3 separate regions of the Homo sapiens genome follow, and all the other regions are reported to be linked to region 1. The links are microRNA targets in miRTarBase. Many come from high-throughput screens and were not tested one by one. Region 1 holds a microRNA gene; each other region holds the end of a gene's coding sequence.
What was found. The annotated mature microRNA hsa-miR-3184-3p reads AAAGUCUCGCUCUCUGCCCCUCA and lies in region 1 at 2,621-2,643, shown strand. An mRNA with a match to its seed (bases 2 to 7 or 8) in the 3' UTR can be bound and repressed. Matches are read on the target gene's strand: a 7mer-m8 pairs with bases 2 to 8, a 7mer-A1 pairs with bases 2 to 7 and ends in A, and an 8mer does both.

Region 2: miRTarBase lists GJD2 as a target of hsa-miR-3184-3p. The part of its 3' UTR that is shown has no 7-base or 8-base seed match.
Region 3: miRTarBase lists LHX9 as a target of hsa-miR-3184-3p. Seed matches in the 3' UTR shown: 7mer-A1 at 2,564-2,570 and 8mer at 701-708.

Annotation. Positions count from the first base shown.
Region 1 is chr17:30,115,738-30,119,737 of GRCh38, reverse strand. It overlaps MIR3184 (microRNA 3184), which reads left to right and starts at 2,578; the gene lies at 2,578-2,652. It overlaps NSRP1 (nuclear speckle splicing regulatory protein 1), which reads right to left and starts at 2,922. Exons shown (of 7, transcript NM_032141.4): 1 at 2,875-2,922; 2 at 1,565-1,658. The coding sequence starts at 2,894. MIR423 (microRNA 423) reads right to left here and starts at 2,659; the gene lies at 2,566-2,659. RefSeq lists silencers at 2,490-2,559, 2,496-3,097 and enhancers at 2,810-2,909, 2,940-3,039, 3,060-3,179, 2,212-3,411.
Region 2 is chr15:34,748,532-34,752,822 of GRCh38, forward strand. It overlaps GJD2 (gap junction protein delta 2), which reads right to left. Exons shown (of 2, transcript NM_020660.3): 2 at 2,501-4,291. The coding sequence ends at 3,947. Among named protein-coding and RNA genes, the nearest start is that of GJD2, 4.3 kb to the right of the region's middle.
Region 3 is chr1:197,928,447-197,932,803 of GRCh38, reverse strand. It overlaps LHX9 (LIM homeobox 9), which reads right to left. Exons shown (of 5, transcript NM_020204.3): 5 at 1-3,802. The coding sequence ends at 3,545. Among named protein-coding and RNA genes, the nearest start is that of LHX9, 13 kb to the right of the region's middle.

The DNA.
Region 1 (4,000 bases):
TGAGGTCAGGAGTTCGAGACCAGCCTGATCAACATGGTGAAATCCCACCTCTACTAAAAACACAAGAATTAGCCAGGCGTGGTGGTGTGTTCCTGTAATCCCTGCTACTCAGCAGGCTGAGGCAGGAGAAACGCTTGAACCCAGGAGGCGGAGGTTGCAATGAGCTGAGATCGCACCACTGCACTCCAGCCTGGGCGAAAGAGGGAGACTCCATCTCAAAAAAAAGAGGCTGGGCATGGTGACTCATGCCTGTAATCCCAACACTTTGGGAGGCCAAGGCAAGTGGATCACCTGAGGTTAGGTTCAAGACCAGCCTGGCCAACATGGTGAAACCCCGTCTCTCCTAAAAATATAAAAATTAGCTGGGCGTGGTGGTGGGGCACCTGTAATCCCAGCTACTCAGGAGGCTGAGGCAGGAAAATCTACTAAATACAAAAAATATTAAAAATACTAAAAATACAAAAAAATAAAAAAATAAAAATTAGCCAGGCATGGTGGCAGGCACCTGTAACCCCAGCTACTCAGGAGATTGAAGCAGGAGAATCACTTGAACCTGGGAGGCAGGGGTTGCAGTGAGCCAAGACTGCACCATCCCACTCTAGCCTAGGTAACAAGAGCGAAACTCTGTCTCAAAAAAAAAAAGAAAAAAAAATATTAAAACATGATGGGAGTATTGGAAAAGCACATATTTACTGGGTGCGGTGGCTTACGCCTGTAATCCCAGCACTTTGGGAAGCTGAGGCAGGCAGATCACCTGAGGTCAGGAGTTCAAGACTAGCCCGGCCAACATGGTGAGACCCTGTCTCTACAAAAATACAAAAATTAGCTGGTCATGATGGCAGGTGCCTGTAATCCCAGCTACTCAGGAAGATTAGGCAAGAGAATCGCTTGAACCCAGGAGGCGGAGGTTGCAGTGAGCCGAGATCGCGGCATTGCACTCCAGCCTGGGCAACTGAGCAAGACACTGTTTCAAAAAAAAAAAAAAAAAGAGAAAAGAAAAGCACACATTTGGGATTGTTTCTGATATATAACTGTGGGTTTCACAGAAGTAGTTTTGGCTGCTAAAATAGAAAATGTTGATATTAGATGTTACTGTAGTACTATCAAGAGTAACTATTCACTACCACGATTATAACTGAGCAATTACATTTGGCAGACACTGAATTTAAAAAAAAAGTAGCGTTGTTAAGAACTGTTATATAGTGATCTTAGCTCATGGTTAACAAATTAAAAACTGCTTTGCTAATAAAAATTTGTAGAAAATTGGTGACATCTTAATAACTCATACCTAGGGATCTTTACACCAACAATTTTGTTATGACAATTTCAGTAGTCTGAAAAGACCGTGTATTTGTTTAAAGGTAAAGTTTGCAGCTTTTAGAGGGAAAAAAATCTTTAAAAAATCGGTGGAGCTGCTTTCTTTACACCTTCCTTTTTGACAATTCTGTAAATTATACTCCACTGTACTGACAAATAACAAAGGCAAAGGTATCAGAGTCACAAGTTCAATTTTTAAAAAATTTACATTTCCAACCATGCACGAGTAAAACATAGGTTTCCTTACCTCATCATCATCATCAGAATCATTCCCAAACACTGATGGTTTTTGCAAAACAGGGTGCAACTGCTGTGTTTTCTTTGGCAAAATAAGCCCATACCTGCATATATTTTTTTTGAAATAGAAATTAAACCTTTATGTTTAAATGTTAACAAATACATCTACTACCTCTTCCACATGAAGCTACCAAATCAAAACATGTCATAAGCTTTATGAACACGTAACAGACTGTTTTTGCTTCTCAGTGATCTCAAAATTCTAACATGCCGTAAGATTCTATAATTACTACTCTAAGTGATCATTTGTGGACACGGGCCAAACTCGAATACCATTTTTATCAAAGAAGAGAAGTAAATGAAAAGTTCAGAAATGTTTTAAGATGGCGAAGTGACAGTAACATTTAAAAAAAAAAAAAAAAAACATGTGTAGTGGAAAGTTTAGTTCATGTCCACTAAAGATTTTAAAATGCTTTCAACTATCCTTGTGGTCTAAACAGTCAAGAAAATGGCTAGATTTTTTTTCCTACTGTGTACTTACACAGTTTCTAAGAACTGACTGGATAGTGTAACTCACGAAAATTTTTAAAAGATAACTGAGAAACCCAAGTAGCCATGGGGCAAGTTCGCATTACACTTTATTAAGATCATGTGCTTTGCCTCGGAGCATCTGAGAGAACCATCCCATCAGATCCAACTCCTTTAGTTTCTCACGTTTTGGCCTTTAAGATGCGGAGATCACGGGAGGCCGCATCAAAAGTAAGGATTACACATCAAAGGTAAAACTTTCAAGTACGTACAGTATTTGTCTCTTTTGCGGCAACGTATACCCCAATTTCCTATATGCCTACCCTTTTTCTGTGGCTTCTCAGAACAATATTCCTAAAACGAGAAGGAAGGGCGGGAATCAGGACTTGAGCTTCTGCCAAGGAGAACAAGGCCCTCTAAGGAAGCCAGGAACTGTCTCTCTTCACACTGCCCCTGAGAGCATCCAAGCGGGGAGAAACTCAAGCGCGGGTTAGGAAGCAAGACTGAGGGGCCTCAGACCGAGCTTTTGGAAAATAGAAAAGTCTCGCTCTCTGCCCCTCAGCCTAACTTCCTTTATTTCCTCACAAGTTTCTCCCTCAAACTTCGGGCTTCCATCCGGGAAAATGTACGGGGGAGGGGAATCTATGTTCCTCAGGACTTCTCGTTTTTTCCCGTCTCTACCCTTGACGACACAGTCCCTTCACTTCCAGCGCATTTAAAACTCCTCGGCCAAAGATACAGTCGCCGTAGTTTCTCATCCCCCAGCCTGACCCTAACTCCCGGATCACTCACTGCCTGCCCGGAATCGCCATCTTGCTCCCGTGTCCGCTGAACGTGGCCGACGCCTCCGTGACGCTGACGCCGATGTCGTCACGTAAACTCTCGCGCGGCTTTGGGTGGCCCGGATCCTGCTTGTCGGTTGAATCGCTGGTTTGAGTCACTTCTATGGTACTGGGAATCGGATCCAGTGACCTCTGTTTTGTTTCGGAGCCCACCGGCTGCCTCAAAATCTGTAGGAGAAAGGAATGACAACGTTCTAGGCCAGTTGTTCGCAGTGTGTGGTTCTGGGACCAGCGGCATCAGCAACACCGGAGATACTGTTAAAATGACAAATTCTCGGGCCCTACCCCAAACCTGCAGAATCAGAAACTTTGGAGTGAAGCGAGTTATCTGAATTTTAACCAGCGGGTAATTCTGATAAAGTTTGAAAACCACTGCCATGGCTATCGATATTCCCCCTACCCCCTTCCAAGTGTTCACTTTAACTGGTTCAGGATAATTAGGCGAAAAATGAAAATCTGTGTATTAATAATACCTTACATAGGACCAAAATTATTATTAAAAAAAAAATTTTTTTTTTGAGACGGAGTTTCGCTCTTGTTGCCCAGGCTAGAGTGCAAAGGCGCGAACTCGGTTACCTCAACCTCCGCCTCCCGGGTTCAAGCGATTCTCCTGCCTCAGCCTCCCGAGTAGCTGGGATTACAGGCATGTGCCACCACGCCCGGCTAAGTTTGTATTTTTAGTAGAGACGGGGTTTCTCCATGTTGGTCAGGCTGGTCTCGAACTCCCGACCTCGGGTGATCCGCCCGACTCGGCCTCCCAAATTGCTGGGATTACAGGCATGAGCCACCGCGCCCGGCCCAAGGACCAAAATTATTAATAATACTGTTCACGGGCCATTGGGTATAGGAATCAGGATCATATATGATACTTTTTTTTTTTTTTTTTTTTTTTTGAGACGTAGTCTCGCTCTTGTCGCCCAGGCTGGAGTGCAGTGGCATAATCTTGGCTCACTGCAACCTCCGCCTCCCAGGTTCAGGCGATTCTCCTGCCTCAGCCTCCTGAGTAGCTGAGATTACAGGCGTCCGCCACCATGCCTGGCTAATTTTTGTATTTTTTTAGTAGAGGCGGGGTTTCA
Region 2 (4,291 bases), not on the chromosome of region 1:
CTGTTATGGCACCAGCTTTAGCGAACTAATACACGTAATAAAATGTAAAGAAAACAAAACCAATGTAAATAACATTTTCTAAGTTCCATCTAAATAAAGTTTTCCAGCCTTCCAAGATGAATGCTTACACCACTTTTTTAGAAACCCGCTGTCTTGAGTTTAGATCTTTTGATTTCTTCAACTGTACTGTAAAAGGTTTTCCTTAATGTCTTCACAGGATGTGTTTAGCTTTCATACATTCTGAGTCTATAAGACCATTCCCAGATGAAACACTGAGACGGTGACAATAAATGTTGTATGTGGTTACAATGGGTAAAGCATAGTTTCTGTCCTTAAGGAACCATGCCGTGATCTAGCATGGTGTGTGTGTGTCTCATCTCCACACAGCAAGTTACCAGCAAAGTGACTTTTATGAGGACTCAGAGCAGGAGCACTAAGCCAGACTGGAGGAGGGTTTAGAATAGGTTCCTTGGTGAGGGGACAGCCAAACTGATTTTTAATGGGTGCAGAGGAATACATCTAGTGAAAGGAGGTAGACGGACAGGTATTCCTTGCAGAGAAAAAGACTTAAAAAAAAAAAAAAAGAGAGAGAGGTGAAAAGGTAACAATGTTCTTTCTAGTGCTTTTAAAACCACTCCCACCTGGATTTTAAGTTCAATCATTTTTCTCTGTCCACAGAGGTCACAGATAGCATAACTACTATCCTTCATATTTTTTACCCTTTAAATATTTAAGCACTTACAGTTACAAATTCTGCCCTTTCAGCTTTTCTTTCTTCAGGTTAAGCAACTTCAGTTTCTCCAGGCTATTCTCCAAACTTTTAAACCAATTTGAGGCACTGCCACCCACTACTTAACCAGTGTACACACATACATGCACACATGCACACACATGCGCTCACATATAGCTGTGCACAGGCCAAGAGGGCCTGCAATTCACCAAATGTCTCTTAAATTTAAGAGGCTATATCAGTGATGTTCTCTCACAAAATACAAATTAAGGTGACATCTATCACATAGCTATGTGAACCGTAAAATCATCAGTGTATTTCCTTTACTACATAGAAAGCAAAAGACCGACACCAATGGTCATTCTGAGGGAAGACTCTATACTCTGAAAGAAAGTGTTTTCTTCTCCATTGCTGACAACTGAGTTAATAATTTTGCCATGTGTAGGTGTTGGGAAACATCACAGAACTGAAATAGATCAACCCCACTCATATGGGATGCATTTCTACCAGGAAACACTACGGTTCTTTTAATCCTACATCAAGTCATAAATACAACAGACCTTGTTTTCCACACAGATTCCTATTTCTTTCACACCCAAGCATATGCTAAGAGCTCTCAAGCAACACTCTTCCTCCATCTCTGGGAGACGTCTTAAAACATTTTTAGCTTACCAAACACAAAACGGAGGAGGATCTGTTTCTTTACTCAAGGATAATCATCTTCAACTGCTTATTTATACTGCAGATAGAAACCTATAGATTGAAATGAGCATATTTTCATTCTAAAGTTGGCATCTGTGCTGCCATAGTTGAGATGCAACAATCGTGTTTGAAAATCAATCGTCCAGGAAACCCCACGTTGCTTCGCAATGTTCAAGCCAAGTGCTCATTGGAATTAGAAGGTGAGTAGCACTAAAGAAATGAGAAAGAACACTAGTCTGCTGAAATAATGGGACCATATGTAGGCAGAAAATACCAAAAATGAGAGTAAAATGTTGTGGCTAAAAAGTAATGTCTTATGACATGTAAGTAAAGGATCAATCTCCTTTGAAGAACCCACTAAGAAATGATTGATTAAAAGTCTAGAATTGTGCTGTGTAATAGAGTAGCAACTAACCGTACTTGGCTATTTAAATTAATTAAATAAAATTAGAAATTCTGTTCTTGATTTGCACTAGCCATGTTTTAAGAGCTCAGTAGTCACATGTGGCTAGTTGTTGCCACATTGGGCAGCATGAATAGAAGAAATCCTCATCATTACAGAAAGTTCTACTGGCAGCGCTGGTCTAGAGAGATCTGCTTGACTACCGGGTTAGCATTGTGTTAAGCATCAGACCCCGAAGAGATCATGGAAAGAACAGCATGCTCGCCAAGTGTAATGATTAATCCATGGCAGGAAAAAAAAATGTGGTGGAAAGAAAAAAAAATTCCACTCCTGGAATGGGCTAATATGATGTAGTATTGACATTTGTGTTATAAGAAATAGACAAGTAAGGAAAGTTTTGAGCTGAAATGGAAAGGAGCTAATAAATCATACGATTTGAATATCTCACCACTCCCTTATGAACATTCATAAAGCATTGATTTGGAAGAAAATATCCATGAAAAGTCTCTCTTCATCTGTTAGTGGCTGATTGTATTTTATTGGTCATTCCTCAAATACTATTCAACCATGACTTACTTCCTACCCCCAATGTTTTTCTGTTATAACATTTTTGATCATGCATTTAAATAAATATACCCCCCATCAAAAAGTGCAGACTCTTCCCATTTTACAAAAAAAGGCAAGAACTTTATTTTAAACAAATCCTTAGTTGTGTGTTACACCATGTCCATATCTAAATCAAAAATGATAATGATAATTCAAAGGGAACAAAGGGCTTCATAAAAGCACATTACCCAGATGTTTCTCTTGGCCAATATTTTAACTAAATACACAGTGGATATGAAAGGTACAGTATGGCACTTAAATAAATAAGAGCAAAAAGAAGAAAACATATTGACAGTCCAATGCAATAGGTTTTTGAACCTTTGGTATATGTCTCAAATAAGTCACCGTAAACACACGTTAGCCAATAGTGTTTAGTTGCAGGTCTTTTAAGCCAGTAATTTTGTATGTGTGTCTGTATATGTGTGTGTGTTTCAAAGAGTAACTGAAAAAATAATAAATCAGGATTGACATGGGATGATTAAGGTCTCTGGTGTAAGCACACAGGTAAATTCAAATCATGGCAAAATGACCGTGCAGCTGTGTTGCACAACAAAACTATGTAAGAAAATGAGTGAGATACACCAGTTACAAATGCTGTGGCTCAGCTAGACACTCTTGATATTAGCCAAAAAAAATCTTTTTAATGTTAACCAAAGTCCACAAGCTGGAAGGCAGAAATATCCTGAAGCTCGTAACCGTGTGCCTAACTGTGCAACAACAATCTCACAAAAGTGTTGTAGTTGCATATTGCAATTCCCTCCCTCCCACCCATCCCCCATCCCTAGTAAACAGCACCAGTGCAGTTTGAGTTAGAAAACTGGAAATATTGAGACATTCCTAAGGTTTTCATCACGACTAAGGGCCAGTCAGATGGGGCTCTAATGAAAACCTCTGCCATGGCCGTTCTCCAATAAGCACCCCATGTAATTCCCTCTAAGTTTGCAAATAAAACATATTAGGTCTAATGTAAGGCCAGATTCTGGAAAAAAAAAAAAAAAAAAAAAAAAAGCTGGCATGCTATTTTGGATTGAGGGAAAGGGGCATGCTGGTGGGGGAGATACATGAAGAGTGCCTCAAGGATGTTTGTCCCATGGCTCAGGATAAAGGGATGGGTTGAGATAGGTCACAAATTTTATATCAATGAAGTACTCAACTCACACCATTCACCAGAATAAAGAGCTCAGCAGGGCTAAGTCCTACTTGGTAGCTGTGCAAGTTCAGTGTTATCAGGATCAGGCTAGGCCATAAACAGAAAGGGACCAAAGAAGTCTAATTGATCCATTTCATCACTCTACCCAATCGTCTCTGTAGAACCAATTAGGTGATATGTGAAAATGGGTCCACTTTTCCTCCTTTCCCATTGGTGCAAAATCTTCTTTTATCCAGTCTTATCCTACATCTTAATGGTGAGGGTCACATAAATGAGGGTGGATACAGCCACGTCTGAGCAGTCATCTGCCTTGGGGCTCCTTGCCATCCCCCAGACCTTCATGAAACCTGCCCTCTCACACATAGGCAGAGTCACTGGACTGAGTCCTGCCAAAATTGGGAACACTGACCCTTGGCAGGTCCTTGTTACGAATCTCATAGATTGACTTTCTCTTGGCCTGAGCCCCTCGCACAGCCAGCTTGATCTTGCGCCATCCCAGGTGGTTGAGTTCAGCCAGGTTGAGCACAACACAGATGCCACTTACAGCAAACATGAACACTAGAAAGACAGTCTTCTCAGTTGGCCGGGACACATAACATTCCACCTCCTTGATGCAGGGGTAGCGGTTACACTCATACAACCCTGGGACACTAAAGCCATAGAGAAAATATTGGCCAACCAGGAACCCAATTTCCAGGGC
Region 3 (4,357 bases), not on the chromosome of region 1:
TTTTAATACATGTGGCAATTGAATACAACAAATGAAAATAAGTCATGAAAAGGTAAAAACCAAGTAAGTAATTTTATCCTAGATTACCAGAATTTAATCTCACTATGCTGTTTGTATTTTTTCATTAGTATAACAAGTTGTAAATGTACTGTGCTGCCTCTTTAAGTGTTCAAAATTAATTTCAACAGCATGTGTTTAACATAAAGTTAACTATGTTTGCATCAAATAAATGTTTATTAATGAAAGCTATTTATCATACAAGAAACAGCAAAGATAAGTCATCATACAGAGGTGTACACTAGAGGTGACATATGTAAAAGTGCATGCAGAGATTTCTGTTTAAAAAGGAAGTGATAAACAATAATGCTAAAATTACTGGGGTTTGATCCCTATACTCTTAAATGGGTGATAGCTTTTCTTTGAATTTACAGTTGGAAAATGCCATTAACAGGACTAATACACATTAGCAAGCAGGTGAAATGAATGTTTTGGACTTTATTTTACAACTGTGCTTGACAAATGTGTGAAATTTTTTTCAATAATAATTTTTTTCAAATATGGGGTGGGCATATTACTGCCAGGTTGCTCTGGTTTTGTACATGGTTTATCTAATTTTGTTTAAACCACATAATTTTAGGCCTTCAGTTGTGTTAGACACCATAAAGAACACAAGTTTCGTTAACATTCAGTAAATGACATTTAAGTCTCTCTCTCTCTCTTTTTTTTTGGCTTAATAAATTTTTTAATGTATGATTATCATAACCTAATAGTGTCTTTGTCTTCACTGCAGTGGATTTCCGATCAAACTTTTCCCCTTCTTTTAATACTTTAGGGAATTTTCAAACGTCGGGATGTTTGGCTGTAATGCCCCAAGATTTGTTCTCCCTGAAAAAAATCATAGTGACAATTTATTAACTACAGAGCAACTTGGCTTTTAGGGGTCTGCAATTTCTATTTAGATTTACAAATATCCATTTGTGCTCAATAGACCTAACATGAAATCTTAATCATATTTAAGGTTTCGTTCCATGCAATTACTTTATATGCTAATTAGCCTTTTTATTCTAAAAATTGGACTGAGTCAAATCAGTGGGGCATTACTTTTGTTATAAGCAAATATATTCAAAGGTATTTCTAGGTTGAATTACACTGCCTGTGCAACAATGTGTAACATTTCATATGAATCAGAAGTTTGGAAGTCTAAAAACTATTTGTATGTTTAAATATTTCTAACAATGTTGTATTACCATTTGAAAAGCTTTTACATATAGATGCTGGAACACACTAGTACGGTTAAAACTTAAATAAAACTGATGGGAAAGAAAACTCCTTAGATTCAAAATGTTTTATTCACACAAATTTAATAGGATATATCACAATTGTTTGGTCCATAAATATTTAGGGGAAATAGTTTCTATACAATGCATTTATCAATAAACAAAGAAACATGGACAATTTTGCTAGACCACTTACTGTACTATAAACACGAAGCTCAATATATAAGATTATTGAATTTATCAACTATATTTGAAAGAGTGCACAACTGCTTTCTATGACATGTTTGTCCCCTCTAACAGGATACACCATAAAAAGAGTTTCAGAAATAAGAGGTAAAACAGTACAAAACTAGTGAGGTGTTAAAAGGGCTTAAAACAGTTAATTTAACAAACAACACATATATCCTGATTTTTCACAAACTTACTTCCAAGTTATATCATAAGGCACATAGGAGAACTGAGTTATAATTAGTCTACTTAATAAAGTAGATCTATATAGTACCATATATTGTTCTGTCAAAGAACAAAATTTATAAGTGTCAATATTTTACCTGTAAAAGTGTATTAATAAGATCTCAGCCTTACCAAGGTTGTTTGGTCTGGTTAGTGGTAAATGCCCAAAATGTAATAGAAGTATGAAAAGTCAAGATTTAAGCTCCATATAAGATGATAACCATACTTGCTAAATATATAATGGCAATCACACCTTTCTTCTGTTACAGTGTTAACTTATCTTCCATCATCTTTTTTTAAAAAATAAGCTACTTTCTGTGCTAATTTTCTAAAGACCCTGAGCAAAAGTTACAATAATGCACTTTAATGTGGGCAGTGAACTGTCAATATGTAACCACACATTTATACAGCCAGAAGGACACCTTTAAAATCTATTAAATAGCCACTTCGACCACCAAAGGAGATTTAAGGGGTCCAAAAAGTGGAAAATATGTGCAAAGTTATTCTTAACAATCCACTAAAGCAAGACATATATCTTGACTTCTTTTTTATTTTTTTAGGAAATCCACAATCTAATTGGTATTTAACTACAACAGAAGCGTAATAGATGAACATTCACCACTGCCCAGACCATTAAGATTTTAGCTTAAATTAAAAGAAAAAAATGCTACTGTAAACTAGGAAATATATTCAGATCAGCATCCACAAGGCTTCTGAGTTTATCTACTTTAAGACTAATAACTTCAAATCTCTAATATCAGAAAAATTATTTTCAATACATAAGTCAACCTATGTCAAAATAAAATAAAACAAAACAAAACCAATTGTTGGTATAAGTCTACCAGGCTGGGTATTTTAAACATTATTCATATAGAATGCCAGATACAATATCATGGTACAGCTGAAGCCAATTAATAGAGCTATTAATTAAATTATATTGATTTTTTTACTTCTTAAAACATTATATTTTGCTTATTTCCATTTTCCCTGGGAAAAAAAGTAACTAGAAAGAATGGTTTCCGAGCTATTGTTTTTAGCTTTAGGAGGTTAAAAGTATGGAATGTCAAAATCAATGCGGAATTTTCATGGATACATAGGGAGCTTAAGTATTTTTCAAATGTTGAAAAACAAATAACCAAGTAAAAAGTTTTTAGAGTTGTACACCCCTAAGAGAAGGAAAAGTCACATTCCTGTAATAGATTTCTCACCTAATTAATCATTACTATTTAAAATGTCTGTAGTTAATGCTTTTATTTCATCATATTCCTCACTTGAATTAACAGTTCAGGTAAGAAATAGAAATACTAAAAACAAGTTTTCAGTTTTAAGATTTAAAAAATGTAACGTTTTCAAAACTCCATAATCACACATACAATTGCAAGATTTAAAAAGTAACTAATTAATTATCTGGTTCTTTATTAACCTAATCATTTAAGTGGGAATATGATTATTTGCCCATAATAATACCACTCTTTTTTCTTTTTTCTTCGAGATTCTGGAAATAAGTAACATACAATTTTAAGAGGCACTTATTAGAATTATTCAAAAACTCTCCTTACCAACTGAAAGACCTAATTAATTTTTTTAAATCCAAATACACTTTGTAGACAAAATATATTCACTTAAAGGAGACAATACTGTAAACTCATTTGCCAAGTGGCTGCAGATGCTACACACCAAGCTGTTATTTTTATTCCCCAAATATCTTGTGGGTTAGAAGAAAAAAAAAGTCTTGTAAATAATAAAATAATAATAATTAGAATAATAATAAAAAGAAGAGGAAGAATTTAAAAACTAAAAAAAAAAAACCAATGTTAGAAAAGGTTTGTTAAGGTAGTTTGTGAGGGGCTTCCGGATTCGTGGCTGTCCATGTTAGAGGTCACGGATGTCACTACAGTGATAGTGGGATTGGTCAGGTCTGTTAAAGTGGTCGCAGTGCCGGGTGGAGTGAGAGCTCCGCTGTCTGCTGAGGGCGGGGCCGGAAGCGACGTGCCGTCAGCTTTATCAACACCCCCATTCTCCTGCCGCAAAAGGTTCCTTCTGAATTTGGCTCGTGCGTTTTGGAACCAAACCTGCAAACCAATCCCAATTGATTTCTTTACCGATGTTCATTTTTATATTTCTTTTCTTTCTCTCTCACTTTTTCTTTTTTTCTTTTTCTTTCTTTCTTTTTTTTTTTTGATATAGGTTTCTCCTTTTAAATATCATTGTTTGTCTTTCTTAGGAGGAAAGGGGCTTTTTTTTCTTTTCTTTTAAAACAGAGTTATTCAAGTAACACTACAGATTTATTATCTCTCAACTGCACTTATTCCACCCTGTAGCATTAACAAGTGCCACTTGGAACAACTGATGCTTAAGTGGATATACCATGGAAATGAACACATGGTGATAAAAAGGGGGAAATACACGGTGATTCCTCAACTGTTATCTTTTGAGAAGAGGTAGAAGCAGGGCCATTGAAAGTATGGCAAAGTAAGAATCACTCATATGAAATGGACATCACTGAAACAGACTTCAAGCCATTCGTGAGCCCAACACACGGTATATATTCTTCACATAGAAAAAACTCCCAGGGCCACAGACCTCGAACAGCCTGAAACTGTTTAGCAGAATTTAAAATGCCTGCT